Linked DNA regions of Homo sapiens. The protein of the gene in region 3 purifies or fractionates together with the protein of the main gene of each other region. This does not show direct contact. Each region holds a gene or a part of one and is shown on either strand. Other genes may lie near its edges.

What was found.
Region 1: the proteins of RBM28 (region 3) and DDX24 purify together in Homo sapiens (affinity purification with mass spectrometry; one large-scale study listed by BioGRID and IntAct). This does not show direct contact.
Region 2: the proteins of RBM28 (region 3) and SDAD1 fractionate together in Homo sapiens (co-fractionation; one large-scale study listed by BioGRID). This does not show direct contact.
Region 4: the proteins of RBM28 (region 3) and MYBBP1A purify together in Homo sapiens (affinity purification with mass spectrometry; one large-scale study listed by BioGRID and IntAct). This does not show direct contact.
Region 5: the proteins of RBM28 (region 3) and DDX21 purify together in Homo sapiens (affinity purification with mass spectrometry; one large-scale study listed by BioGRID and IntAct). This does not show direct contact.
Region 6: the proteins of RBM28 (region 3) and NAT10 purify together in Homo sapiens (affinity purification with mass spectrometry; one large-scale study listed by BioGRID and IntAct). This does not show direct contact.
Region 7: the proteins of RBM28 (region 3) and PAK1IP1 purify together in Homo sapiens (affinity purification with mass spectrometry; one large-scale study listed by BioGRID and IntAct). This does not show direct contact.

Annotation. Positions count from the first base shown.
Region 1 is NC_000014.9:94,050,203-94,053,702, forward strand, and holds part of DDX24 (ATP-dependent RNA helicase DDX24), read right to left. Parts: intron 2,926-3,500; coding exon 2,796-2,925; intron 1,261-2,795; coding exon 989-1,260; 3' UTR 1-988. UniProt on the Homo sapiens protein: ATP-dependent RNA helicase that plays a role in various aspects of RNA metabolism including pre-mRNA splicing and is thereby involved in different biological processes such as cell cycle regulation or innate immunity.
Region 2 is NC_000004.12:75,963,132-75,967,343, forward strand, and holds part of SDAD1 (protein SDA1 homolog), read right to left. Parts: intron 4,204-4,212; coding exon 4,146-4,203; intron 2,692-4,145; coding exon 2,633-2,691; intron 1,081-2,632; coding exon 1,004-1,080; intron 1-1,003.
Region 3 is NC_000007.14:128,298,486-128,302,697, forward strand, and holds part of RBM28 (RNA-binding protein 28), read right to left. Parts: 3' UTR 1-4,212. UniProt on the Homo sapiens protein: Nucleolar component of the spliceosomal ribonucleoprotein complexes.
Region 4 is NC_000017.11:4,545,255-4,549,466, forward strand, and holds part of MYBBP1A (myb-binding protein 1A), read right to left. Parts: intron 4,189-4,212; coding exon 4,078-4,188; intron 3,396-4,077; coding exon 3,270-3,395; intron 3,057-3,269; coding exon 2,889-3,056; intron 2,804-2,888; coding exon 2,704-2,803; intron 689-2,703; coding exon 592-688; intron 508-591; coding exon 356-507; intron 92-355; coding exon 5-91; intron 1-4. UniProt on the Homo sapiens protein: May activate or repress transcription via interactions with sequence specific DNA-binding proteins. Repression may be mediated at least in part by histone deacetylase activity (HDAC activity).
Region 5 is NC_000010.11:68,959,170-68,962,669, forward strand, and holds part of DDX21 (nucleolar RNA helicase 2), read left to right. Parts: intron 1-636; coding exon 637-1,080; intron 1,081-2,912; coding exon 2,913-2,988; intron 2,989-3,500.
Region 6 is NC_000011.10:34,135,961-34,140,172, reverse strand, and holds part of NAT10 (RNA cytidine acetyltransferase), read right to left. Parts: intron 3,532-4,212; coding exon 3,398-3,531; intron 3,196-3,397; coding exon 3,147-3,195; intron 983-3,146; coding exon 886-982; intron 789-885; coding exon 678-788; intron 1-677. UniProt on the Homo sapiens protein: RNA cytidine acetyltransferase that catalyzes the formation of N(4)-acetylcytidine (ac4C) modification on mRNAs, 18S rRNA and tRNAs.
Region 7 is NC_000006.12:10,701,060-10,705,271, reverse strand, and holds part of PAK1IP1 (p21-activated protein kinase-interacting protein 1), read right to left. Parts: intron 2,904-4,212; coding exon 2,783-2,903; intron 2,708-2,782; coding exon 2,633-2,707; intron 1,868-2,632; coding exon 1,815-1,867; intron 766-1,814; coding exon 620-765; intron 526-619; coding exon 428-525; intron 1-427. UniProt on the Homo sapiens protein: Negatively regulates the PAK1 kinase. PAK1 is a member of the PAK kinase family, which has been shown to play a positive role in the regulation of signaling pathways involving MAPK8 and RELA.

The DNA.
Region 1 (3,500 bases), on a different chromosome or scaffold from region 3:
GTTCCCTGAGCACATATTTATACCAGGCTGACCAAGCCTTGAGTTCCTCTTCTCCCAAGGAGCTCAGCTAAGGGAACACAGCATGGCAAGTGCTATGAAGAGGGTAAGCACGGGACACTAAGGGAGCCCCAGGAGAAGCACTGCTTCCCCTTAGAGGCTCAGGACTAGAGGACCCATGGCAGTGCTCCAGGATGGAGAAGGCCAAAAGGCAATCCAGACCGAGGGAAAAGCCTATTCTGCACAAAGGCTCAGGACAAGAGAAGGGGTGCATGGAACCGTGGGCAGGAGCCTGCTCTGTCAAACAGGAGGGAGTGGAGACAAGGCTGGGGCTAGATCCTGAGGGCTTCACACGCCAGACCTAGCGACTGTTACTGTTGGCTCTGTGATGTGAGGGAAGCCTGAAGACAGCAACCTCATCCCTGCCCACCTCCCACGGTGGCTCAGACAATACCCAGGAGAGTGGAGAGAGCTAAGGAGCTATTAGGGTGCTGCTCTGGGTAAAGCAGGAACATGCACCTCTTGAACATTCCAGCCTCTTGCTCCATTCACACTGTCCAATCTTGGCCTGCAGCCAGAGGCCTGACACTATTCCTGTCCTTTCAAGGGCTTAGCACTGTGCTGGCCCAGGAGAATCACTAAGTTAATAATGAAACAAACTACACCACCACCCCCATCTTCTATCTAAAAAAAAAAAAAAAAAATCAGGATGACACAATGGCTCTGACCATTGTTTTTAATTTATGAAATCAAGTTTAACACACAAGAAGCCTATAAACACTGCAATACAGAAAAATTAAGCTGCTGCATTGAATTCTTACTCCAAAACAATGCAAATCTGCATGAGGTCTCTCCCGCTATGGGTGTGAGTGGAAGAGAGGGAGACTTTTTTACCTGGGGTTGGTGGTGGAGTGAAACACAAGGGTGGGAGAGGTTTTGCAAATAGCCAGAGAACAGAAACCAATGTGCAGTCACTGACACACTTGACCAGTTAATTTGCACTTGTACTTGGCTGTGGCTGTTCCGGCTGTGGCTCCTTCGGCTTCTTTGTCTTCTTCTTCTTCTGCTTGGAGAGACAGCTCAAAGCAGACTCGCTCTTACTTGGGGCAGACACAAGCAGGGGCGGCTTGCCAGACTGAGTGGGATACTTGGTTTTCTGGCTCTCCGTAAACAGTGGCTGGGACAGCAGGTGGCGCAGCTCCTTCTTCAGAACCTTCATCTGCTTTTGTCTCCGACGTTCTTCTTGCTGGTCAGCTTTTCCTCCTTGAAACACAATACAAAAACGATCCTATTTACTATGGTTTGTAGAAACATTTTGTTTCCCTTGATGGGTAACACAGTGAAAAATGTTTTAGAACTACTTTAGGGAGGCAGGGTTCAAAAGTTCTCTGAAGAAGCTAGTGGTGGCTTGGCAGGGGCTGTAAATGGATAACGTCTAACCATTTGCAGGGGATACACAGGACCGCTCTGTCCTTTTTTACTCCATAAAAATCCTCCAAGACTGGAATTATCTTTACAGATGAGGCAACTCAGGGTTAGAGAAGTCACCTGGCTCACATCACAGAGCCAGTCATCAGACAGAGCCCAGAACCCAAGTCTCCTGACTGAAGATCACTTTTCTTCCTATGACCCACCCACTTACTGCCCACCTGGGGTTTGGTGAGTTCACAATTACAACCCCCACCTCCCTGCCGCCCCAGGAGACACTGAATGCTTCTTTGTAGCCCAGCTCTCCTATGCCTTGCCACCAGTGCTGTGACTGCACATGGAGAAGCTGGCAGAGCCAAAAGGTTCCACCTCAGTCTGTCCTCAGGAAGGGAAGCCAGGGCCTCCACATCTTCGGCCCAAGCCCCAACCCTGAGCCACCAGAAATAGCTCACTGTCATCAAGCCCACTGGTTTGGCTCCTGGCTTCCATGCTGAGCAGACAGCAGTTAAGTCTGCCTCTGAATTTGCTGACTTGGGCACCGAGGTGTCAACATCTCTGCTGAGCTGCATACTTGGTGGTGTGGAAGGAGCATGGAGTTCTAGATTTGGTTCTACCACTTTTTAGACCAGGAGTTTTCTCAAGCAGGGACCGGGCAGATTCATCCCTGAAGCCTCAGCCTGTGGTCACATATAGAGTAGCAGCTCTGGAAATGCCTTGTGACAGAGCTGTTTCCCTGCACAAACTGCCTCTGCTGTGGTATCTAGTTTCCATATGTAAAAGAAGAGTACTTCCTGCTGTGTTCATGTCATGAAAGTGGAGAAGATCAAATGAGATAATGGCATGGAAGTGCTTTGTCAGCTTGGAAGGCAGGTGTAGTAGGAACCATAATGACAAATAACTTAAAATGTAATACTTTCTATTTGCCAGGCAATGCTATAAGCACTTAACATTTTTTAACTCAATCAGTCTTCACAACAATCCCATGAAGTAGGTAGTTGACTACTTCCATTTTATGGAGGAGAAAGCTGAGAACACAACAGAGGTTAAATAACTTGACTCAGTCACATAGTTAAGGCAATGAGCCGGCATTCTAACACAGGCAGCCTGGCCAGAGAGCCTGCTCCCTTCCTCACTGTACTCCACTGCCTGTCCATGTAAGAGGAGGCAGCTGAGGGCACAAGACAGAGACAGAGGAAACAAAGACTGACCGAGGGCAGTAGGCTCACCTGGGACCAGGGCCTGTTAGCAAAGAGGGGGAAGGACGCCTTGCTGATTTTGACAAGACCCACAGTAGTAGAGATGGTTCCAACAAAGCAAAAGTTAAAGAGAGATTTCAACTTCCTCAATTCCCATCCCGCCCAAGGGCTTACCCTTATACATGTCTTCTTCCAGCTCAATCTCCAGGGCAGCTGCTGCCTGCTCAATCCAAGAGTTGTGCAGGCAAGCCTGGAAGTTCCGATACTCAGATTTCTCAATCTGTCGAGCTAAACGGATTCGCTCCTGGGGGGAAGTAACAGAAAATATTCATCTGAAATAGAGTTCAGGCCTCTGGGAAGCAAAGTCTCACTTGAGTTGTGTTTGTGTGTTTAAGGCAGGTATCACTCTGCTGCCCAGGCTGGAGAGCAGTGGCATGATCATGGCTCACTGCAGCCTCAACCTCCTTGGATCAAGCAATCCTCCCACCTCAGCCTCCCAAGCAGCTGGGAGGCACCACCATGCCTAGGTAATTTCTTTTTTTTTTTTTTTTTTTTTTTTTTTTTCGTAAAGACAGGGTCTCAACTGTGTTGTCTAGGCTGGTCTTGAACTCCTGTGCTCAAGCAATCTTTCCACTTCAGCCTCCTAAAGTGTTGGGATTACAGGCGTGAGCCACCGTGCCCAGCAAGTAGTGTTTTTAAAAAGCTCTTGAGCCGGGCATGGTGGCTCACACCTGTAATCCTAGCACTCTGGGAGGCCAAGGCGGGCGGATCACCTGAGGTCAGGAGTTCAAGACCAGCCTGACCAACATGGAGAAACCCCGTCTCTACTAAAAATACAAAATTAGCTGGGCATGGTGGCGCATGCCTGTAATCCCAGCT
Region 2 (4,212 bases), on a different chromosome or scaffold from region 3:
CATTTATTAAATAGGGAATCCTTTCCCTATTTCTTGTTTTTGTCAGGTTTGTCAAAGAACAGATGGTTATAGATGTGTGGTATTATATCTGAGGGCTCTGTTCTGTTCCATTGGTCTCTATCTCTGTTTTGGTACCAGTACCATGCTGTTTTGGTTACTGTAGCCTTGTAGTATAGTTTGAAGTCAGGTAGCGTGACTCCAGCTTTGTTCTTTTGGCTTAGGATTGTCTTGGCAATGTGGGCTCTTTTTTGGTTCCATATGAACTTTAAAGTAGTTTTTTCCAATTCTGTGAAGAAAGCCACTGGTAGCTTGATGGGGATGGCATTGAATCTATAAATTACCTTGGGCAGTATGGCCATTTTCATGATATTGATTCTTCCTATCCATGAGCATGGAATGTTCTTCCATTTGTTGGTATCCTCTTTTATTTTGTTGAGCAGTGGTTTGTAGTTCAAAGAGGAGAGACTCTTAAGAAGTGATTAGGCCTAATGTTGTTATCTTGGGAGAAGGTCCCTTATCACCAGTGAGTTATAAAAAAGTGAGTTTGGCCCTCTGTTGGCTCTTGTGCTCTCTTCCCCTTGTGCCTTCTGCCAATGATGCAGCAACGAGGCCCCCACCAGGTGCCAGACAGACACCAATGCCATGCCCTTGGACTTCCCAGCTCCAGAACTAGGAGCCAAATATTTATTTTATTAGCAGTACAAAGTTTACGGTGGGAGATCAGAAGAAAAGCACTTAGTTTGCTAATCAATTATTCATCTGTAAAAGTAAAACTGCTAAAAAACAAAAATGCTAATTAGAAGGAAAAGTATCTTTTCTCTGGCTCCCTTCTCAAAATTCTGACCAATAAAAAAATTATCAAGCCTCCCAAAAAGACTGAAATATATTTTAAACCAATTTTATAGAGGTGATACTACCAGCTACAATCTTACATCTTGGTAACTTATAGCAAATCTAGTCCATTAAACAATGTATCTTCTGCCTCCAACCAGATTCTACATACCCTACTGTCATGACTTCTCCAGAGTTCTTGTCGGTAACAAAATTGTTTGCCACAGTCATAAGCAATGATTGAATAATCTGAATTGGAAACAAAAAAGAGATGGGTGCTGATTAAATGTCTGCATACACAAACACATAAGAATGAAAGGACAATAGATTATTCATAGTGGAAAACCCAGCCTTCCACCTTCAGTTTAGGAATTGGAAGTAATCAAGATTAAGGAAGACAGAAGAAAACACTCCACTTAGGAATTCAGTGTTTTTCTTGGCTATCCTCAGACTAAATCAAAGAAAGGAATTACTCTATAAATTTACTAATATTCTTGACCTCCCCTAGTTATACAAAATTTGCTTATTAAAGAAAATCAGAATTCTAAACAACTTGTCTGAAAGAAACTTCTTTTTATGAGACGTACAACTGAACTTCTGTGTAGATCCCCTTAAGAGTTAGTGTCTCTTCTATCTATTAAAAGAAGAAAACGGTGAGGGAAGGGGGGACAGTAACCCTTGTGGGAAAAATGACCCTTGTTGTGGGAAGTCAGAGACCCCGAATGGAGGAACCAGCTGAAGCCATGGCAGAAGAACATAAATTGTGAAGATTTCATGGACATTTATTAGTTCCCAAAATTAATAATTTCTTATGCCTGTCTTTGCTGCAATCTCTGAACATAAATTGTGAAGATTTCATAGACATGTATCATTTCCCCAATCAATACTCTTGTGATTTCCTATGCCTGTCTTTAATCTCTTAATCCCGTCATCTTCATAAACTGAGGATGTATGTAGCCTCAGGACCCTGTGATGATTGTGTTAACTGCACAAATTGTTTAAACAATATGAAATCTTGAAAAAAGAACAGGGTAACAGCGATGTTCAGGGAACAAGGGAGATAACCATTAGGTCTGGCTGCCTGAGAGCCAGGCAGAACAGAGCCATATTTCTCTTCTTTCAAAAGCAAATAGGAGAAATATTGCTGAATTCTTTTTCTAAGCAAGGAACAGCCCTGAGAAAGAGAATGTGTTCCTAGAGGTAGGTCTCTGAAATGGCCGCTCTAGGGACATCTGTCTTTTAAGGTTGTAGATAAGGGATGAAATAAGCCCCGGTCTCCCGTGGCACTCCCAGGCTTATTAGGATGAGGAAATTCCCGCCTAATAAATTTTGGTCAGACTGGCTGTCTGCTCTCAAACCCTGTCTCCTGATAAGATGTTATCAATGACAATGCGTGCCCGAAACTTCATTAGCAATTTTAATTTCGCCCTGGTCCTGTGATCTCGTCCTGCCTCCATTTGCCTTGTAATATTTTATTACCTTGTGAAGCATGTGATCTCTGTGACCCACACTCTATTCTTACACTCCCTCCCCTTTCGAAAATCACTAATAAAACCTTGCTGGTTTGGAGCTTGTGGGGCATCACAGAACCTGCCGACATGTGATGTCTCCCCTGGACGCCCAGCTTTAAAATTTCTCTCTTTTGTACTCTTTCCCTTCATTTCTCAGACCATCTGACAAGAAATAGAAAAAAACCCACGTTGAATTATCGGGGGCAGGTTCCCCCGATAGACCCTGAAGTACCTAACAGTAACACTGTCATCCATGCCCTAGGTCCAGAAGTCAGGTTACAGGTTCTCACCTCTGGGGGTACTAGGTGATGAGATGCTTGTGCAGCAAACAGAAGGATCTTGGTTACTTCTGAAAACATAAGAGAACAGAAAGGTCATGGTCAGTGTATCACCCTGCCTCTGAGGACCACAGCAAACATGGCAAGCTCATTCTGGTCTAAATGGTATTGCTGCGTATTCCACCTGGAACACTCAATCCCCAGATATCTGCTTGGCTTACCCCCTCACTTTCTTCAGGTCCCTACTCAATAGCTGCCTTATCAAAAAGTCTCTCCTGACCACACAATGTAAAACAGAACCCGTCCCGACACTCCCTATTGTCCTTATCCTGCTTCCTTTTCCTTCAAAACACTTATCTTTACCTGGACATATTATATATAGCACATCTACATCTGCCTCCAGATGTAAGCCATGAGGGTAAGGACCTTGTTTTACGTTTACTGTGGAATTCGTACTGTCTTAATGCAGTGCCTGGCATAAAAATCATTAAATAAATACTTGCTGAATGAATGCATACACACACACACACACACACACACACACACACACACACACACACACTGTCTCTTTTCAAAGGGGCAGCATAGCATAGGTAACAAACAAGGCCACTGGCAAAAGAAGTGAGGTGAATCCTGATTTTCCATTTATTTGCTGAGTGACTCTAGTCTTTTTTTTCCCTCTCTTTGTATACCTCACAAGATTAATGTGAGGATTAGACAAAATGACGTATGTAAGGCACTTAGCACAGTGCTTGGTCCATGTTAGATACTGAATAAATGTTAGTTTCCTTCCTACTTTGGTTCAGGTTCAAAGACAAGAACAATCATCTCTTCTTTCCTGCTTTTGTGTTGTTTTTCATTGAGAATGCATGCAAGGTCAATGTGAGCAGTGAGATCAAATCTTAATATCTATTATGAAGATGCAATAAAACGTCAATTTTTTAAAAAAGAATTTTCCATGAGTATTTACAGTATTACAAGAAGACTTGCTTTGAGAAACCAATTTGTTGTTGTTGTTTTCTTTTCTTTTCTTTTTGAGACAGAGTTTTGCTCTGTCACCCAGGCTGGAGTGCAAGGGCACAATCTCGGCTCACAGCAACCTTCGCCTCCTGGGTTCAAGCGATTCTGTCTCAGCCTCCTGAGTAGCTGGGATTACAGGTGCCCGACACCACATCCGGCTAATTTTTGTATTTTTAGTACAGATGAAGTTTCACCATGTTGGCCAGGCTGGTCTTGAACTCCTGACCTCAGGTAATCCACCCATCTTGGCCTCCCAAAGTGCTGGGATTACAGGCCTGAGCCACTGTGCCCGGCAGTTGTTGTTGTTTTAAAAAAACAATAGTTTCTTAAAGTTGAGGGTAACGACAAACCCATAGCAAACTCTAGAAAGAAAACAAGGGCTTCTCTTCACATCTCTAATGTAGAGCACACTGCACTCCTGTCTTTAGTGATTCCAGAACAAAAGACTTTGCATGTTTATTCTATTACCAAGGCCACCAAAGAAACATGGCAAGTGGCAGCTTACCTCTTTGGTGGGGCTGCAGAAACCTTTGCAAAAAGGGATAGAAATTGAAGAGGAAAAGCTGTGGAGA
Region 3 (4,212 bases):
TCCCCCAATACTTCTGTATTTTTCAGATTCTCTTTACTGAGCATATATTATTTTTACAATCAGAAAAAAATGAACGGATTTATTTTCAAATGCCCCCCATTGCTCTTCTTTAAATATACAGAATATATTCTTTACATATAAAACACTGCTCCTTCAGAGCCAAGCAAAGGATCACTCATTTTCCCCTTAACTGAGAACAAGGGCTGCACATGAACAAAACGCCTGCTTTAAAATGTACCCATGGCTGGATGCTGTGGCTCACACTTATAATCCCAGCACTTTGAGAGGCTAAGGTGGGTGGATCACTTGAGCTCAGGAGTTTGAGACCAGCCTGGGCAACATAGCGAAACTCTGTCTCTATAACAAATACACCAAAAATTAGCTAGGCATGGTGGTGTGTGCCTGTAGTCTCAGCTATTTGCAAGGCTGACGTGGGAGGATCACTAGAGCCCAGGAGGTCGAGGCTGCAGTGACCTGTGATTACACCACTGCACTCCAGCCTGGGAGACAGAGTGAGACCCTCTCTCTCAAAAAAAAAAAAAAATGTACCCATATTTGTTTTCATCAGGTATGGTAAGATGACAGACACAGAGAAAACTATCTCTGCAAGAAGAGTTTGTTATGCAGTTCCCAGGAGGAGAGGTGTGTCACGCCTTGCAGGGCCACACAGGAAGAACTTGGGTCAGCCAAGAAGCAGAGGGGGTGAGGGAAAAGCACGATCCAGCGCCTTTAATGTAGTTTCCAGCAGAAAGGCAAGGCAAGGCAGGGAAGCAGGCTTAGGATTGGCTAATCTGTATAACTTTGGCAGGCCCTGGCTATAGGGATTGTCCCTAGTTGTCCCATGCCTGGCCCTGGAGTGATTTAGGGCAGGGGGAATATTGGCTTGCTGTGTCAGAGTTTGATAAAGGAGGTGACTGGGGGTGTGGGCTCTGGATTGACTGGTTTGCATACGAAAGGCACGCTCGACCAAGTTGTTTACTCTCTCCCCAAAGTAGCTAGCCCTGGGAGGGGCAGTCTCTCCAGGATAATGCATTATAAAAACAACAACAGCACCTGATTAGTATAATGACATATGTTTCTCTTCACAGCAGTTTGTAATAGCAAAGGTTGGAAACCGTTGAATGGGATTTCCATCACATAAAGAACTGGTTATGTAAATTATGTTACACTGATACAATCCAATGAGCCTCCCTTCAGAGAGAGGCACCCTCATGGCCTAATTACTTCTTTAAGGACCCCATCTCAATACTATCACATTGGCAATAACCTGAATTTTGGAAGGGACACATTCAAACCATAGCAGAGATGTAATCAAATTAAGATGAAATCATTGGGCTGGGCCTAAGCCAATATGACTGGTGTCTTTATAAGAAGAGGGAAATTTGGACATAGACCTATAGACACAGGGAGAAGATGGCCATGTGACAACGAGGCAGAGACTGCAGTGATGCATCTATATGCCAGGCAACGCCAAGAAATTCCTCATGAAGGAACCAACCTTGCCAACACTTTGATTTTAGACTTCTAGCCTCCAGAACCGTAAGGTGATAAATTTCTGTTGTTTAAGCCACCCAGCCTGTGGTACTCTCTTACAGTAGCCCTCCTGACTAATATAGGCCCTTTCTCAACTTTCCCTAGAAGCCCAGGTTTCCTTGCTACAACCCTGGCAGAGGCTTTGGCACATTTCACCCCTCCTCTCTTTGTGATTGGTTTTCACAAAGAAGCTCAAAGTGGAGGAATGATCTCTGGACATGAAGCCTGAGGACCATGCAAGCTCCTTCCTGCCAGAGGCTCTGTTCTGGGTTCTACCTGACCTGGACTCTGAGGGCTCTGAGCAGGGAAGGGTTAGAACCCAGCGTGGATCAAACATTTGAGATGAATCAGCACTGATAGCTGGAATGTGAGCTCCCAAGTGGCTTGAGCTCACTCTGCTCAGGACCCTCTGCAGCTCCTGGGGGAACACTGGCACAGACGGGTGCACAGTTAATATTCAGTTAACACCGGCTGGCTGAATGAAGGGCGAGCTATCTTGAGCCTGACTTTTCTGATCCTTCAATGAGCATGCTAACATCATCCAACCCCTGACCTTGTGGTGAGGATCAAAGACGTTAATGCCCACTAAACGCTTTCTACGATGCCTGGAAACAACTGTTATCAATACTGTGCTATGTTTTAGTAAAGAGGGCTGTTCCCTGAGAGCAAAATTGGCAAGTGGGTCTCACCTCCCATGCTGACTCCAATTGTTGGGTGCGGTTGCATGGATTGATGTCAAAAGCCTCCCAAGGCCCAGTCTGGGCCAGATGCAGGGACTGTCATGATCCCTTAGCAGTGTTTGCTCTGGAAAAGGAGGAACAGGGACCTGGGTGCCATCTCTTCACAGCGCTCCACCCCTAGGGCCTGCTTAAATGGCACAGCCAGCTCCTCAGAGAGACAGGACACACTCTCCTTCTGCCTGCAGTTGTGAGGAAAGAAGGGGCACTGAGGAGGATGGGTCACCCCGGGAGCAGAGCCTGGCTCATATCCTGGTATCCCTGCAGAGGCTGGAGGTGGGGCCAGCACCACCTGAGGACATGTAGCCTTCCCAGGATTCTGGCGTGTGTTCCCATCCCTAGCAGGAAAGAAGTGGAAATTAGCCAATCACCCTGGAAGTGGGCAACCAGTCTTTCTCCCCTTTCCTGTGAATTCACTCAGGACACTGGGGACAAAAGACATCACAGACCCTATCTCCCGTGCTCTTTTACAGTGGCTATTTCATTTAGTACTAGGGGGCTTTTTGCCTGTATTTTATAAATGAGCAAAGAGGACTGGAGGGTCTGAGTGATTTGTCCAGGGTCATCCTCTGTCCTTTGGCTTTTACCTGTGTCACCACAGCCTCCTGGGGAGATGGCTGTGAAAGTGGGCAAAGGGTGAGTCTCAGCTTCACAGGGCTGCAGCATCAGCAGCCTCTCTTGCCTGTCCGTCAGCACTGACAGGGGCAACACCTGGCCTGGCACAAGGCTCTCCGCTTCTTGCCCTCAGGACTTGGAGTCTCTTGGAAGGAGCCTCAGCCCTTCTCTTGGTTCCTGCTTTTGTCTCTAGCCTTCCTAGAGTAGCTCAGATCAGTTCACACCCCTCTACCCACGACTACCCAGGAAAGGACATGATCCCTCATTAAGACCCAGCTATTGCCTAAGGGTCACTGAGGGCCTCAAACCCCAGAGGCTCTGTGGCAGGCACCTGGGAGCCCACTTGGCGGGCCTTGCCCTGGCCCAGACATCACAGACCACTCTCACTGCACTGGCTATTAAGTGCCTGCTCTCTACTAGGGATTCCTAGGGGGTGGCCAAGAGAAGGAAAGACACCCCCACAGGAAGGATGGGCCCAGAAACTGACTTTCCATGGCTCCGACGAGGGGTCCTGAGGCACTCTATCGAAGTGCAAGTCCCTGAATCTGTGTCCCAAGCTCTGAAAATGCAAGAGGTGCTTGGAGCAAACAGGGAGTGTCCTGTCACTGAAGGTCTGCAAGCAGAGGGGTAAGGGACTGTTTGCCTCCTACAGATTTCCCTTCTTTCTCTTCTTCTGGGCCTCTGGGCCAGAGACAGGCATTTTACTTGATGCGATCATCCTCAGCACATGCCTGACACATAGTAGGTGCTCAGTAATTGTTAGCTGTTGTTATTAACCATTATGTGAGTTTAGAGTGCCCGTCCTATTGCAGAGAGGGAGAGAGCAGAGACAAATGGTGATTCTAAGAACCTGTCCCCTTCCCTGGGACTCACTCCAGTGGCTGGTCGCCAGTTGCACCCACACGCGGCTGGCTGCGGGCAGGAGAGCTGGGCTCATTCGTTCTGGCAGCTGTCCCTGCAGATGAGGATCGAGGGTATGTGACTGCCTGAGCAGCTACTTCAATCCTAATGTCCCTTTAATAGCTCTCGTCAAATTGCCACAGCTCTCCCCAGAGATTTTCATGGCTATGGAAAATAAATAGCCATTATCTGACCTCCAGGGGAATGAAGATGTCTGCAGAATTCGGGGAAAAGCAGTTATAAAACTGAGTAGAGCCAGCGCACCCTTTCCCTATTAGCAACCTCTAAGGGAGTCCTAGCTACTGCCTAGGAAATCACAAAATAAATGTATTCACTCCTCAGACTCTCTTTTTTCACCTATTAGTATGTATATGAGTACATTTGGCTTGTGGTAGATCAGGAGAGAGAAAGAAAGAAAAAACAACTA
Region 4 (4,212 bases), on a different chromosome or scaffold from region 3:
ACACCTCTGCACCCTTCAGCCGCCGCTCATCAGAATCGTCCGTCACCACCACACGGTCATTCTCATCCTCACTGGTCTCGGGGTTCAGCACCTGGGGAGGGGTGCCAGCCACTGACCCATTTGCAGCCCCCGCCCTCCTCTCCAGGCCCCACTCAGCCTTGACCAAAGACCTCCATTTCCCAGAAGAAAACGGAGCCTAGGAGAGGCGGCCAGGCCAGGCCAAGGCCTCGTTGAGACCCCTCCCACCGGCCGCAGGCTCCCGGCAGGGAGGCTGGAGGCTGAAGCGGCACCCCTGGTGCAGCTCGCTGCTCAGTGAGCCCCAGCCCACATTCCACTCCCAAAGGTCCCAACTCACATCCAGAATTAGCTGCAGGGCACGCGGGGTCAGGTGGGAGCAGATGTGGCCAAACACGCTCCGGGCCACCTGGCGCATGAGGTGGCTGGGCTGGGCCAACAGGGCCAGCAAGATCTCCACCAGCACCTCTACCCACGGGGGTTCCTGGGGGTCTGCAAGAGGGAGGGGTTGAGCCCGGATAGGGGACCGCTGGCCCCACCCCACCACTCTAGTCCCTCTCGTGACCAAGGACCCACCGATGGTCTTGGTGCGGCTCCGGCGGGGCTTCTCTCCCAGACTTTTCCTGATGCAGGTCTGGATGTCACCCAGCAGGTCACAGCTCTCTGCAGGGGACTGCGGGCAGGGTAGGACACACACTGGGGCCAGGCCCTGTCCCCAGCCCTTCTAAACCAGGCAAGGGGCTGGCCAAATGGCAGCAGTGGCATCAAGAAGCCTCCAACACCCAGCCACTGGCCCGCCCTGGCCAGTCACCCCCACAATCCAGAACAGAAGACCCCAGCTGGACACCCCAAGAGCTGAGGGCTTTTGAGATGGAGTCTCGCTCTATTGCCCAGGCTGGAGTACAGTGGTCTGATCTCGGCTCACCACAACTTCTGCCTCCCAGGTTCAAGCCATTCTCCTGCCTCAGCCTCCCAAGTAGCTGGGATTGCAGGCGTGTACCACCATGCCCGGCTAATTTTTGTATTTTGAGTAGAGACGGGGTTTCACCATGTTGGCCAGGCTGGTCTTGAACTCCTGACCTCGTGATCCACCCCCTTGCCCCCCTTGGCCTCCCAAAGTGCTGGGATTGCAGGTGTGAGCCCCCGCGCCCAGCTAGCTGACGGCTTTTTCACACCTAATACGCAGTTACAGGATCCAAAAGCCTGAAGGGGACAAGGAGTCCAACTCCCCCTTGGACACTCAAGAAAGGCAGAACCTGACAAGGATGGTCAGGGTCCCAGAGAAGCCAGCAAGCCCCAGCCCCCAATTCATAATTCTAGATTATTCCCTCCATGCTTGGCTTGGCATGAGAGACAGAATTGAAAGTCATTAGTTTTAACTAATTTAATTACATTGAACTCATCTGACTGGGGATAACCCCAGACTCGAGTGAGGTGGCGTGGTGTGCGCATGTGCGTGTGCAGGAGCTCTTGAAAACTGTGTGATCTTTGGTACCTAAAAAGCAGACTTTCCCCTCATAATGCAGTCGGCAGCTTGAACGTTTAGGCCAGGGTGGGACAAAGCAGCCCAAAGCCCTTGTCATTGCTCTCCGGCTCCCAGGCTGTGTGCCCAAGCAGGTCCCCGTCCTCCTCTGGGCTGCACCTTTTTTTTTTTTTTTCTAAGACAGAATCTTGTTCTGTTGCCCAGGCTGGAGTACAGTGGTGTCATCTCAACTCACTGCAACCTCCGCCTCCCAGGTTTAAGCAATTCTCCTGCTTCACCCTCCTGAGTAGCTGGGATTACAGGCACCTGCCACCACACCTGGCTAATTTTTGTATTTTAGTAGAGAAGGGGTTTCACTCTGTTGGCCAGGCTGGTCTTGAACTCCTGACCTCGTGATCACCTGCCTTGGTCTCCGGAAGTACTGGGATTACAGGTGCGAGCCCCGAGCCTGGCCAGGGCTGCACCTTTTATCTAAGGCTCTGACACAGCAAACTGCAGCCTCCTCTGTCCAAGTCAAGTTCGGAGATCCCAAGGCTGGGGGCAGGCTCCACATGTGTCCTGGAATCACCAGGACTCTGCTGCTATCAAAGGCCTGACGTCAAGAATTGGAAGGGGCATCGTGGCCAACCTTTCCCCAAACAGCTCATCCACATGCTGGGCTCAGAATAACCAAAGCTGGCAAGTAAGGCAACCACAGTCAAGTGGCCAGACGGGAGCAAGCAAGAGACCCACCTACTCAGGCTACAGAAGACCTAAAGCAGCCCCAATAAGAGCAGCTTATGTCATGAGAAGAAAACTCAAAAGAAATCAGGGTACTGAGCCTCGAATGTGGTCAGGGCTTCTTGATGGGAAGAACCGAGCGGGAGAGCCCGTTGCCAGAAGGTGTTCCCACAGCAGGGGGTACAGTGCAAGCTCCTTTGCCTCTGAGTCTTAGTTTCTCCATGTCAAACATGGAGAGGGGGTGTCTGCCTCAAAGCTGTGGGGATTACGAGATCCTGCATGGAAAGCCTAGGACACCAGCTGGTGCCGCTAAGTGGCCGGAGGGATGTTTCCACCTGTGACAAAGTTGGCTTCAAAAACCTCCCAACTTAACTCCCCCAGAACCTTTCCTGGAAACCCGCACAGCCCTCAAAAGCCTCTCGGTAGGGGGCCCATTGTGCCATAGAACCCCAGGCTCACAGCCCCTCCCTCCCAGGCCCCAGTACCTTGAGGAGGTGGATGCCCACGAGGAGCAGAAGGTGCTGGAAGGCAGCAGCCCTGGCCTCTGCGGAGTGGGCCTCCAGCTCCTTCAGAGTCTGCAGCATCCTGCGGGGAGACAGGCGATTCCCAGGCCCCTGCACCAGTCAGACTGCAGCGTCCTGCCCACCCCCTGGAAATCCCACGTGCTCACCGGTCCCAGGCCTGGCGCTGCTGCGCAGTGAAGGGTGTCACGGTGGTCACGTTGTGGCTGTGATTCAACAGGAGGTCTGCGAACTGCACCAGGTGGTAGGTCCAGGGCTGCCCACCCTGGGTCTGGCCCGGTGCCTGCTTGAACTGCGTGCTGAGGGTCTGCAACAGACTGGGCAAGGGATGGGGCTTGGGGTCAGCAGACCAGATGAGTCAATGTAGCCGCCTCCCTCCGCCCTCCCCAGGGCTCGGTCTCCCGCCTCTCCAGGACCTACTAGAACTCCGGGGGCCTCTGCCGTTGTTCCCAGCTTAGGGGACCTGGAGGGAGCAGGCGCCCTCAAGGCCTTCCCACCTTCGGACCTCTCCTGGGCTGCCCAAGACTCACCTGAAGAAGGCACTGCTGACAGCCTCTCGGGCCTGGTTTTCCAAAGGGAAGGAGAACGGGTGCTTTGTCTCAGGGATCTGGGATGTGGGCTTCTTTGTGACAAAGAACGAGTGGAACAAACAAAACCTGGGGAGGGTGGGAGAGTGGCCATAGCCATTCACTGCCATTGGTTTTTACAGGCTCCCCTCCTTGGATGGTACCACCGAGGGTACAAGGCCAGGAGGAGGAGGAGCCGCCCTTCTGCCCTGGGTACAGTCCTCGGGGGCCTGACGGGCAAGGCTGGAGGGGGCTGGGCTGGGCTAGGATGGGAAGGGGCCGTTTCTCTGCTCTGGATCCCCAGCTGAACGCGGGTTAACCCGAGCTAGAGAGAGTCAGTGCCCCTCTCAAGGAACCAACAGATGGGAGGCTGTGTGGTCATGGCCAAGTCAGGTCACTGCTCCTGCGAACATGGGACAGCCCCCTCTTGCAACCGTGCATGTTGAGGGTGACGTGAGCACCCAGCTCTGCACTGGCACAGACGAGGCAGGTGTGGGGCAGAAGGCTTCCCTGACACCTCCCACGTGCAAAAGCTGCCTGCAGGGCGCGCAGAGCACACCTGAACCTTTTAGGCCCCTGCAGCTGGGGTGCCTCCTGGGCCCCTTCCCTTCACGGGTTCCTGAGGAATTCCCAAGTCCCCTTGTGCCTGCCCCCCACTGATGACTCAACCCAAAGGCTTCTGGCTCCAGGGGATGCAAACTAGGACGAGTTAAGGGGCCCCATTCCTTGGCCACACGCCCATGGGAAGCTGGGAATCCAGCACAGCTCGCACCTGGCCACCTGCTCAGTCAAGGCCTCCTCCATCTCCAGGTGCAGGCTGTCCACAATGCTCACCAATCGAAAGATGATCCATTTCCTCAGCCGGAACACAGCTCGCTCAGGCCTAGCGGGGCAGGAGGCGAGGTCA
Region 5 (3,500 bases), on a different chromosome or scaffold from region 3:
GTATCCCATGAGCTTATCCAAATCCCTTATGAAAATCTGGTTTATAGGCCAAGCACGGTGGCTCATGTAATCCTAGCAGTTTGGGAGGCCGGAGTGGGTGGGTTGCCTGAGCTCAGGAGTTTGAGACCAGCCTGGGCAACATGGGAAAACCCCACCTCTACTAAAAATACAAAAATTCGCTGGGTGTGGTGGTGGGCGCCTGTAGTCCCAGGTACTCGGGAGGCTGAGGCATGAGAATAACTTGAACTCAGGAGTGGAGGTTTCAGTGAGCTGAGATTGTGCCACTTCACTACAGCCTGGGCGACAGAGCGAGACTCTGTCTCAAAAAAGAAAATCTGTTTTACAACTGTTTGACCCACATGAGTTGAATAGTTACTAAGGGGCACTCTTCATTTTCCAAGATAGTGAAACTATTGATATATACCCGTCTATATATATAGCTAAGAAGCGATTTTAGAAAAAGCTTACTATTTTGATTTTTACCTTATCACAGCATGAAAGTACAAATGTCGAAATGCCCCAAAATTGTATTTTTTAAAGTTGAAAATGATCTTGAAATAATCCAGAATTGATGAATGTTGCAAATGTATAAATGCCTTATTCAGTGTTTGTATTTTCCTTATGAATTTTTTTTAGAAAGAGAAAAAAGAGAAGCCAAAATCTGATAAGACTGAAGAGATAGCAGAAGAGGAAGAAACTGTTTTCCCCAAAGCTAAACAAGTTAAAAAGAAAGCAGAGCCTTCTGAAGTTGACATGAATTCTCCTAAATCCAAAAAGGCAAAAAAGAAAGAGGAGCCATCTCAAAATGACATTTCTCCTAAAACCAAAAGTTTGAGAAAGAAAAAGGAGCCCATTGAAAAGAAAGTGGTTTCTTCTAAAACCAAAAAAGTGACAAAAAATGAGGAGCCTTCTGAGGAAGAAATAGATGCTCCTAAGCCCAAGAAGATGAAGAAAGAAAAGGAAATGAATGGAGAAACTAGAGAGAAAAGCCCCAAACTGAAGAATGGATTTCCTCATCCTGAACCGGACTGTAACCCCAGTGAAGCTGCCAGTGAAGAAAGTAACAGTGAGATAGAGCAGGTACATTTGCACTTCATTGGGTAGAAGATATCTTTCATTGTTGTTTCAGATAAATAAGTAGGTAACTGCTATATGTACTCTTTAATAGTAGGAGAAAATGTGATGTGTCAGCACCTTGTGGGTTGGGGGATACCTTAGGCTGACTGGGACTTCATCTTAAAAATTAGCATACGACAGGGCATGGTGGCTCAGCTAAGAGTACTCTGTCTTTTTTATTTTTTTATTTTTTTGAGACAGAGTCTCGCTCTGTCACCTAGGCTGGAGTACAGTGGCACGATCTCAGCTCACTGCAACCTCTGCCTCCTGGGTTCAAGTGATTCTCCTACCTTAGCCTCCTCAGTAGGTGGGATTACGGGTGTGTGCTATCACGCCTGGCTAATTTTTTGTATTTTTAGTAGAGGCGGGCTTTCACCATGTTGGCCAGGCTGGTCTCGAACTCCCAACCCCAGGTGATCTGCCCGCCTGGGCCTCCCAAAGTGTTGGGATTACAGGCATGAGCTACTGTTCCCAGCGGACTCTGTCTTTAAAAAAAAAAAAAAAAAAATTAGCATAGTGTCACAATGCCTCCTTTACAAATAAGCAGATACTGCTTAAGCTTAGGGAGAGTCTTGGTCTGCTTATTTGCAAGTCAGTCAACAGAAGAGATACAGTTTTGTAAATGGGCCCTAGTTTCCCTCTGAGGGGTTTAACCAAATAAATTATTGGAATTACTGAAAAGGTTGATTGCATAAGTCCTTTTGGTTAGGCCATTAAGTAATCATCCTGGAGTTGAACAGGATGATAAAATGTCTGTCCAGAACCTAATTCTGTTATCTTTCAGAAACTCAGTTATGAAAGAAATACGAATTGTATTAAAAAAATTTGTTTTAGACATGGGATCTCGCTGTGTGGCCCAGGCTGGTCTAGAACTTGTGGCTTCAAGCGATAATCCCGCCTAAGCCTCCCGAGTAGCTGGGATTACAGGCACAAGCCACCACACCCAGCTGAAAAATACTAATTCTAATAGATTTTCTTTTTGCTATAGATCATGGTCAACATTTGTAACTTTTTTCCTGATTATAAAAAATATGTGATCCAGAGAAAATAGAAAATGCAGACATTTTGCAAAAAGAAAGAAATGCTTCCTGGAATTTCACCATTCATTTAGTAAATATTAATACCTGTACTTTTCAAGTACAGAAGTCATCTTGTTAATTTTTGGTGTTTCCTTGTAGTACTTTTAGTATATGCATCTATTATTTTTAATCAGATTAGGATTGTACTGTGCAATCTTGTATCTTTTTTGTTTCTAGCTAAGCATTTTCCTCGTTAAGTACGCTTAATGGTTACATAATCCTTCATATAAATGTCTTGAAATCTACTTACTACTTGTATTGAGCATTCAGATATCTTACTATCAAATAATGCCACAGTGACTGCTACCTCATAAAATGTTTGTTCATTTTCTATGGATGTGTGTATACAAGAGATGCTGCTTTGGAAGAGGGCTAATGACATTTCCATCAGTATATTGTTGATTATGGTTATGGAGTAGATCTTAGTTGAGATCTAGTCACACATAATCTTAGTTGAGATCTTAGTTGAGATCTAGTTACCCAGTATATATTTGCCTCAGATTTTTCTTTTGTTAAAGTTTTATAGATTTATGACAATGTTTCCTTTTCAGATCTCGAGTTACCTATCAAGGTTTTTGTATCTTTTTGGTTGATTTTTAAAGTGATGTGTTTAGAAGAATTGCTTTAGGATAGCTTGTTTTGTCTCTTTCTCAGAAGGTTCTCTATTAATTTGTGTAGGTGATTATTGATTTCTTTCTATGGCCCTTTACTTGATAGGAAATACCTGTGGAACAAAAAGAAGGCGCTTTCTCTAATTTTCCCATATCTGAAGAAACTATTAAACTTCTCAAAGGTAATGTTCTTGGAAATATCGTATGATGTTAGAACGTATTATTTTAACAGAAGCACTCCACTATTTTTGTTAAGATGAACCAGGATGTATTCTTATTGTAGGCTGATATATGCAGTCATATAATGAAGTAGGCCTGTGTATTCAATTTAGTACTATAGTAGTGATGGTTCTTCATGCTTCTTAAACAAGTGGTTAAAGCTTTTTCAGGCCCTCTGTGGTGGCTCACACCTGTAATTGATTGAGGCCAGGAGTTTGAGATCTTCCTGGGTAACATAGTGAGAACCTGTCCCGACAAAAAGTTTAAAAATTAGCTGGGCACGTGGTAACACACATCTATAGTCCTAACTACTCCAGAGGCTGAGGAAGGAAGATCGCTTGAGCCCAGGAGTTCAAGGCTTCAGTGAACTGTGGTCACACCACTGCACGCCAGCCTGGGTGACAGAATGAAACCCTGTCTCAAAAAAAATTGTATTTAATACAGTGTGTATTCAGAAGTGTATTGACTAATGGTG
Region 6 (4,212 bases), on a different chromosome or scaffold from region 3:
CCATACTGAACACATGGACCAAGGAAAAGCTCCCTGTGGCCCAGGGTTAGGGGAACACAACTACACTCTTTCCCTGCTTTGTCACTTCATTTGGTGTCACAGAAAGTGTGTAAGCTCTGCCCAGCTCAAGATATACGGATTTCTCCATCAAAATATAATTGGCAAAAAAGTATATACACACACATATACACATATATGCATGCTATACCTAAATATTTATATATAAAATATGCAATAAAACTAATCTCTTACACATTTTTTGTTTTTTAAGTATTCAAACAATCTGTATGCACAAAGCACTTCTGTGTGCTGTTGGCTACAGAAGGCTAGCAGCATATTCTTATTACAATTTCATGAATCAGGAAACTAAACCTCAGAGATGGAGCACCTCACTCCCCTAGAGCACAGATGTAAATCGGCCTCCATAACCAACCAGCTACATGAACTAAATGGACACCTCTGACATTAAATTGCACAGCCAGAGTCTTACCATGAAAATGAAAGACAGCACAGCCTGGGACAGAGCAGGGGCCTGGCAAGCGGGTGGTGACCAGCGAGTGACTGCAGGCTAGAACCAGTCCCTCAATTTCCAGCCCAAACCCTTCCTAGGACACCACACCCACCTCCCACACAGCCAAGCCATTCCCAACCCTCCTCCCTGTCCCCACCCGGCTCACCAGGCTGGGCTGGCTTCCCCATGTTCCTGTTCTGAATGATGTTCAGAGCCAGGGAAGGAGAGAAGGTACTGAACTGGTAGGAGAGCAAGGCTAGGAACCGCCGTCGGAAATCTGTGGGGTGCCATCACGCAGAGTTAGAGGTCTGGAGGCATCCCCGGCAGCCCCCAATCACCTCATTGTCTCCCCCAAACCCCTACTCCTCAGTCACCTTTCCAGAAGGCTGCAAGCCAGCCTCCCTGGTCAGCCTCATCCTCATCAGTGAGCGTCTTCAGCATGATGCACGAGTGCTCTCCGGTCAGGTCATTCTGGGCAACACAGAGGTTTAACTGGCACCAAGAACCCCCTTTTTTTGAATAACCCATCATTGATGAAGGGTAAACACTCAGAGAAGAAAGGCTTAGTGCTTCCGCAGGCCTCTCCTTCTTTCCAGGCTGGGGGTAGGCGCCCTTCTCAAACAGCCCTCGCCTTCACCTTCCTCATATCACCTCAGTTCACACACAACAGCTGCAAAGATCACTGTCCTGCAATCTCCTCAAAAGTGTCACAGACACAGAGAAGAGCTGCTGGCTCTTCTGGGCCTGCCTCTTGCTCGGGACGTGCGGGAGGGAAATATGTGCTCCTCTCAGGTAGATGCTGAACTCAGTCATTAGGGCTTAAGCGCCACACAATCCAGTCAACATGGGTTTGATGCCTCACAGCAGGAACTCCAGGGCCAAAACCTACACCTCAGTGCTGGCAGCCAGTCTGCAAGTGCAGGCTTCTTTAGGTGTTAAAATTGTGACTATTTTTACATTTTTTACTCCATAACAACAAAGCCCCACACCATAAAAACACCACCAAGTCACAAATGAACAGTGCACAGTGCAAGACCACACGGACACACCGCAGACCACACCACAGCTCACTAGCTTGCGTTCTCCTTGCAGCTGACAGCCAAACTTACATCCTCAGCCTCCACCAAATGTACTGACAGAGACTCAACCCATCTCTGCAGCTCCCTGCCTGCACGGAAGCAGCCCAACACCCAGCAGTCCTCACCAGTCCCACTTTAAACCCTCGGACGGACACTGGACACTAGCCTCTGATACTGACTTTGCCCTCTCCAAAATCAAACCTCCAACACTTCCCTCTCAGCCGATGGACTCCCCTCATCTGGGAAGACAGAAGCACTCAGAAGACAATGTCTTCATCCTCCCAACCCCAGATCAGCCAGCCAACTGATGCCTTCCATTCCCACGCTCTCTGCCTTCCCTGTTCCGAAGGATGAAGTAGGTGGTCACCTCTCTTCCTGAATCTCGAGTCCCACCCACCACCTCCTCAAGGCCTGCACTCTGGCAGTCAGCCCCCCTCACCCATACCACTAATTGCAGGATCGAACCCAGCAGCAAAAAACATTCTCTAGAATCTCCCATCGGACAATCCTTCTTTAGCGCCCATCTCCCTCCAGCGACCTTGTTTCTCTGCTCCCTTTCGCTTCCTGAAAGAGTCGCCTGTTCCCCTTCTAGTTCTTCACCTCCTCTTCCCTCTGGCCAGGCCAAAGCCTCCACTCCACTGCAGCTGCTTCAATGCAGCTCACCGCTGCTGACAAATCCAATGGCCAGCTGTCCTCATCCTCCTCATCCTCTCAACAGGGCTGACTCCCATTCCCACTTTTTCACCTTGACGTGTGACACCACACCCGACTTTCTCTTGCGCATCAGGGCTGTTCCTTCTCAGTCTTGTATGTGCTGTGTCCTCCTCTTCATTCCTCTAAACGTTAGGGTCCAAGGAGTCACTCTCACATCCTTTCATTGGCTCCAGATATTTTTCATTCACTCAACAAAAGTATTTACTGAACACAAACTACACAGCAATTGCTACTCTAAGTGCGAGGAATACAGCAATGAACACAACAGACAAGAGCTCCGTGCCCTCCTGCAGTGCATTCTATTATGAATATGCTGATGGCTCCCAAAGCTCCATCTCTAGCCCCAAACTTCCCTACCTCCAAATTCCTGTAGTCAAATGAATGCCTAGTCCACATTTCCACTTGGATGTCCAATAGGCATCTCATATTAACATCAAAAAAGAACTCCCACTCTTCCCTCCAAATCTGCTCCTCCTGCAGTGAGTCCCATCTCCGACAGCACCTCCAACACCCAGTTTCTCAAGCCAAAACTCTAGGAATTACCCTTGATCCTCCTGTCCACTCTCCTTTCCCAGAATCTGATGAACAAGTCCACGTGTACCTCTGCCATTTTATGACTAAGCTCAACGCATGCACCGTGTAGTCGGAGAAGAAATGTGTGATGATGTGGCCTGTCACTGAGGATGGCTGTTTCCATGTCCATCAGAATAAACCTCTTCAGAGGCACAGCCACCTGCTCAGAGCGATGCAGCAGGGAGGCACTAGGGCTCTTTGCAAGGACAGGCCTGTCACCTACCATAACGGTAAACCTAAACTTCTCCTCTGCTGGATGCCTCACTCACCGGGGTCTGTCTCAGATAAACAGGAACAAATCCAGCTCGTTTCCAGAACCTGCAAAGATACAAAGACAGTAGGTCACTGTGTGTGGCCTCTGGGGAGTGGCTGATAGACACACAAGGGCAAGAGCCAGGAAGAGCACGCCACAAATAGCAGGCTAGCACCGATACCAGCTACCAACAGAGACACACAGCCCACAGAACTCTTCTTTCTCAATGCCAAGGAGTGATGCCGTGGAAGGAGGGCAGGCACTTACTTGAGGAGCCTGGGGGTCAAGCCATAGGAAACACCCAGGTAATCCAGGCGTTCGGCAGGCCTCTCATTCAATTTGAGGAGTAAAGGAGGCAGGTCCTTCCGGGGAGTGATGACCTCTTCCAACAAGCTGACAGCCTGGGAAGATGCCAAGGAGAGAACACAGTCCATTCAGCAGAGGGAGAGAGACATCGTCAAGCACCCTGCCGCAGCGCACTCTGGACTTAGCACAACAAAAACTGGGAGAGGTTTCTTGGTTTATTGCTGTGGTTTTCAAACTATGAGAACACCGGAGTCAAGCAATCATTCTCAAAACACCTCAACATGCATAGAATCACACTGCTTCAGACCTCTAGAATGCAGGAAGACAGCCAAAGAGTTTAGAAACGACTGACAGAGGCCGGGAGTGGTGGCTCATGCCTGTAATCCCAGCACTTTGGGAGACTGAGGCGGGTGGATCACCTGAGGTCAGGAGTTTGAGACCAGCCTAGCCAACATGGCAAAACCCCATCGCTACTGGAAATACAAAAATTAGCTAGGCACGGTGGTGTGTGCTTGTAGTCCCAGCTACTCAGGTGGCTGAGGCAGGAAAATTGCTTGAACCTGGGAGGCAGAGGTTGCAGTGAGCTGAGATCACGCCATTACACTCCAGCCTGGGAGACAGAGCAAGACTCCATCTCAAAAAAAAAAAAAAATGCCCAACAGATTTACAAAGGGACAGGCAGGCTCCTGTGATCCAGCATGAAGTCCAGGTTCTATCACCTGACAGCCTTAGGAAGTGACAAACCTCTGAGCTTGAACTTTTTTTTTCATTGCTTG
Region 7 (4,212 bases), on a different chromosome or scaffold from region 3:
ATCTTGGCTCACTGCAACCTCCGCCTCCAGGGTTCAAGTGATTCTCCTGCCTCACCCTCTCGAGTAACTGGGACTACCAGCGTGCACCACCACACCAATTTTTTTATTTTTAGTAGAGACGGGGTTTCACCATGTTGGCCAGGATGGTCTTGATCTCTTGACCTCCTGATCCGCCCGCCTCAGCCTCCCAAAGTGTTGGGATTACAGGCGTGAGCTACTGCTCCCGGCCCACTTTTGCATTATTAAATGCCAGGAAGATAACATCTTCCACCACCTTATTAGACTACAGATACCATATACTGTACATGTAGATATGTCTGATTATTTCTGCAGTTGTTAATAAAAACATATAACCTGGCTTATGAAACTACTGCATATATACCTTTTATTAAGACTAGACATATACACCAAAGATTGGTAAAAATACCTGTTTTCATGAGCTTTAAATTCGCAGAGGCACACTAGTGAATCACAGTCAAAAAACCTTATAACTTCTTCATCTCCAGCCACTGCAAGGACAGACTCCTAGGAGAGAGGAAAAAGAGTAATAACATCCAGAATGTCATCAACAGTTCCAACCATCACCACAAACTTTGGTCAATGATTTCTGATTACTTACTGAAAGAAATTTAACAGAGGAAATTCTCTTTTCATTTGTGATGGTGCCACTAATGGATGCAGTGTCAAGCTGATAGATGTCTATTTTATTCTGTATGATAACTACATACTGCTCTCCTCTTGGGGACCATTCTACTATGTGAGCATCTGTAAGTGGAAAAAAACGAAGTTTATTTATTTTGTAAATAAAACATAAAATGATCATAGTAATAAAAATAGCAAATATTTATACTGTGCATTTTCAAATTCATTATCCTATTTCATCTTCGTAACACATTTTACAAGTCAAGTTTTTTAGAAAATAATCTAGGTTCAAAAAGTCAAAGGTGGGCCAGGTGCAGTGGCTCACACCTGTAATGCCAGCACTTTGGGAGGCCAAGGTGGGTGGATCACTTAAGGCCAGGAGTTTGAGACCAGCCTGGCAAACATGGTGAAACCCCATCTCTCTACCAAAAAATACAAAAAATTAGCCAAGCATGGTGGCACGCGCCTGTAATCCCAGCTGCTTGGGAGGGTGAGGCAGGAGAATAACGAACTCAGAAGGCAGAGGTTGTAGGGAGCTGAGATAGCGCCACTGCACTCCAGCCTGGGTGATAGAGCGAGACTCCATCTCAAAAAATAAAATAAAATAAAAAATATAAAATAAAATAAAATGAAACAAAATAAAAATCAAAGGCAGGTGGCAGAGCCACAAAAAGAATCTAGTCTAAAATGGGAAAAGAAAGTAACCCAAGGCATTTGCTCAGAGGTAACCACCACCATGCAGGGAAATAAATGTGTAACATACACACATGTAAAAATGTATATCTATATTCATATTCCATTAAGTCACTGTAAAATATACAGGTTGAGTATCCCTTATCCAAAATGCTTGGGACCAGAACGATTTTGGATTTTGGAATATCTGCATATATACAATGAAATATCTCGAGGATAAAACCCATGCAACTCATGTTTCAAGTCTAAACATGAAATTCATCTATGCTTCATATACACCTAGCCGGAAGGTAATTTTACACAATATTTTAAATAATTTTGTGTATGAAACAAGGTTCTGACTGTGACCCATCATGAGGTAAGGTGTTGAATTTTCTACTTGAGGCACCACATCAGTGCTCAAAAAGTTTCAGATTTTGGAGCATTTCAGATTTCCAGATTAGGAATGCTCAACCTGCATTTCAAACAAAAATACTCACTTTGTTTTATATTTTTTATGAATGCTGATCTTCCTTCTACAAGATTCCACGTTCTGCAAAACAGGAAGCTCACTTACGGTGTGATCACCAACTAACTTTTACTAAGCGTAAAAGAACAAGCATAATGAAGACTTAAGTGACATTTTACTAAATATTGGCTATTTAGAAGACCTGCTATCTTCCTTACAGCAATATTTTGAAATATTATGAGGCAGGATTAAGACTTGCTTCATTCCCATATCCCTTTAACATCTCGTATCCATTGTATTTTCAAAAGGTTTCCCTTTCTAAAATCTTCAATTCACAGCTATGATGACTGCAGCATAATTGCATGTTTGAAAACGGAGCTTGTTGGCTGGGCGTGGTGGCTCACGCCTGTAATCCCAGCACTTTCGGAGGCTGAGGCGGGCGGATCATGAGGTCAGGAGATCAAGACCATCCTGGCTAACACGGTGAAACCCCGTCTCTACTAAAAATACAAAAAATAGCCGGGCGTGGTGGTGGGCGCCTGTAGTTCCAGCTACTTGGGAGGCTGAGGCAGGAGAATGGCATGAACCTGGGAGGCGGAGCTTGCAGTGAGCCAAGATCACGCCGCCGCACTCCAGCCTGGGCGACAGAGCAGGGAGACAGAGCGAGACTCTGTCTCAAAAAAAAAAGAAAGAAAACAGAGCTTGTCATTTTCATTCTACCACTATGAACCACTATGAAAAGGTTCACCAGCTTTTGACCTTTCCCTTGTATAACAGTATTTTTAGATGGTGGAGAGCTGTAGTAAAACACACACCTTAGATAAATGCTCTTGAGCATTAATGACTTACCTTAAAGTTTTATCTGTACCAACCGACAGGGCCAACTTGCCAGATGGGTGAATAGAAAGGAAGGTCACCTGTCCTCTATAATGAAACCAAAAGTTAGTCCCCAACTTGACTGGCACATCGAGAATGCCAAAGGGAAAGAGCCCGACTCACTTGTGAGCTTTAATTGACTTCAGGCATTCCCATTTCTTTGCATCCCAGATACAGATGAGTCCATCTTCCGCTCCACTGATTAAATGCCTGTTGCCATAGAATTTCAGGCAAGTTATTGTACCTATGGAAAAACCAAAATAGGCAAAAATAATATTCATTTTAAATGCAAACTCCATTTCTGATTTGAAGGCTATGCTATGCTAAGTAAAACACTCAATACCTTTTTTTCTTTTTCTTTTTTTTTTTTTTGAGGCAGGGTTTCACTCTTGTTACCCAGGCTGAAGTGCTATGGCATGATCTTATCCCACTGCAACCTCTGCCTCCTGGGTTCAAGCAATCTTCCCACCTCAGCCTCCTGAGTAACTGGGACTACAGGTGCACATCAATATACCTAGCTAATTTTTGTATTTTTTGTAGATACAGTGTTTCACCATGCCATGTTGCCCAGGCTGGTCTTGAACTCCTGGGCCCAAGTGATCTGCCCACCTCAGCCTCCCAAAGTGCTGGGATTACAGGTGTGAGCCACTGTGCCTGGCCTCAATGTCTTAATATTACTAAAACATACCTTAAATTTTTTCATGTAAGTACAGTTGTTCAAATCTATGCAAATATTTTCAGCAGAGTATCTCCAGTTTAGATACAGATTTGAACAAATCAGTTCACGTCCTTGCTTTATGTCTTCAAATTATAAATTTAGGAGGTGGCTGGCTAGGATAGTTTGAGCAGAAGTAAACAAAACTAATCAGCTAACAAGCTAATCTGGGGAACAAACCAGGTGTACTGCCACATGACTTCCACTTTCTAAACAGTGAATTAGCTACCCAATCAGCCACAATCCAATCCTTATCACTCAGATCTGTTTTGATCCATTTCCACACACTTCTCATTCATTTGTTCATATTTTCCTCTCCCTATTATCCTATTTCTCACTTTGGAAAGTTTGGTTTCCCACATTTGCTTCCCTAGAAAAAAGCTTATCTATTAGCAACTCTTAGAAAAATAGGATTTATGCACCCATAAAAAGGAATGAGATCATGTCCTTTGCAGGGATGTGGATGGAGTTGGAAGCCATTATCCCCAGCAAACTAATGCAGGAAGAGAAAATTAAACACTGGCTAGGCGAGGTGGCTCATGCCTGTAATCCCAGCACTTTGGGAGACCGAGACAGGCAGATCACTTGAGGTCAGGAGTTCAATACCAGCCTGGCCAACATGGCGAAACCCCGTCTCTACTGAAAATACAAAAATTAGCTGGATGTGGTGGTGTGTGCCTGTAGTCCCAGCTACTCAGGAGGCTGAGGCACAAGAATCGCTTGAACCCGGGAGATGGAGGTTGCAGTGAGCCGAGCTCTGCCACTGCACTCCAGCCTGGGTGACAGAGAAAGACTGCATCTCAAAAAAGAAGGAAAGAAAGAAATAGAAAAGAAAAGA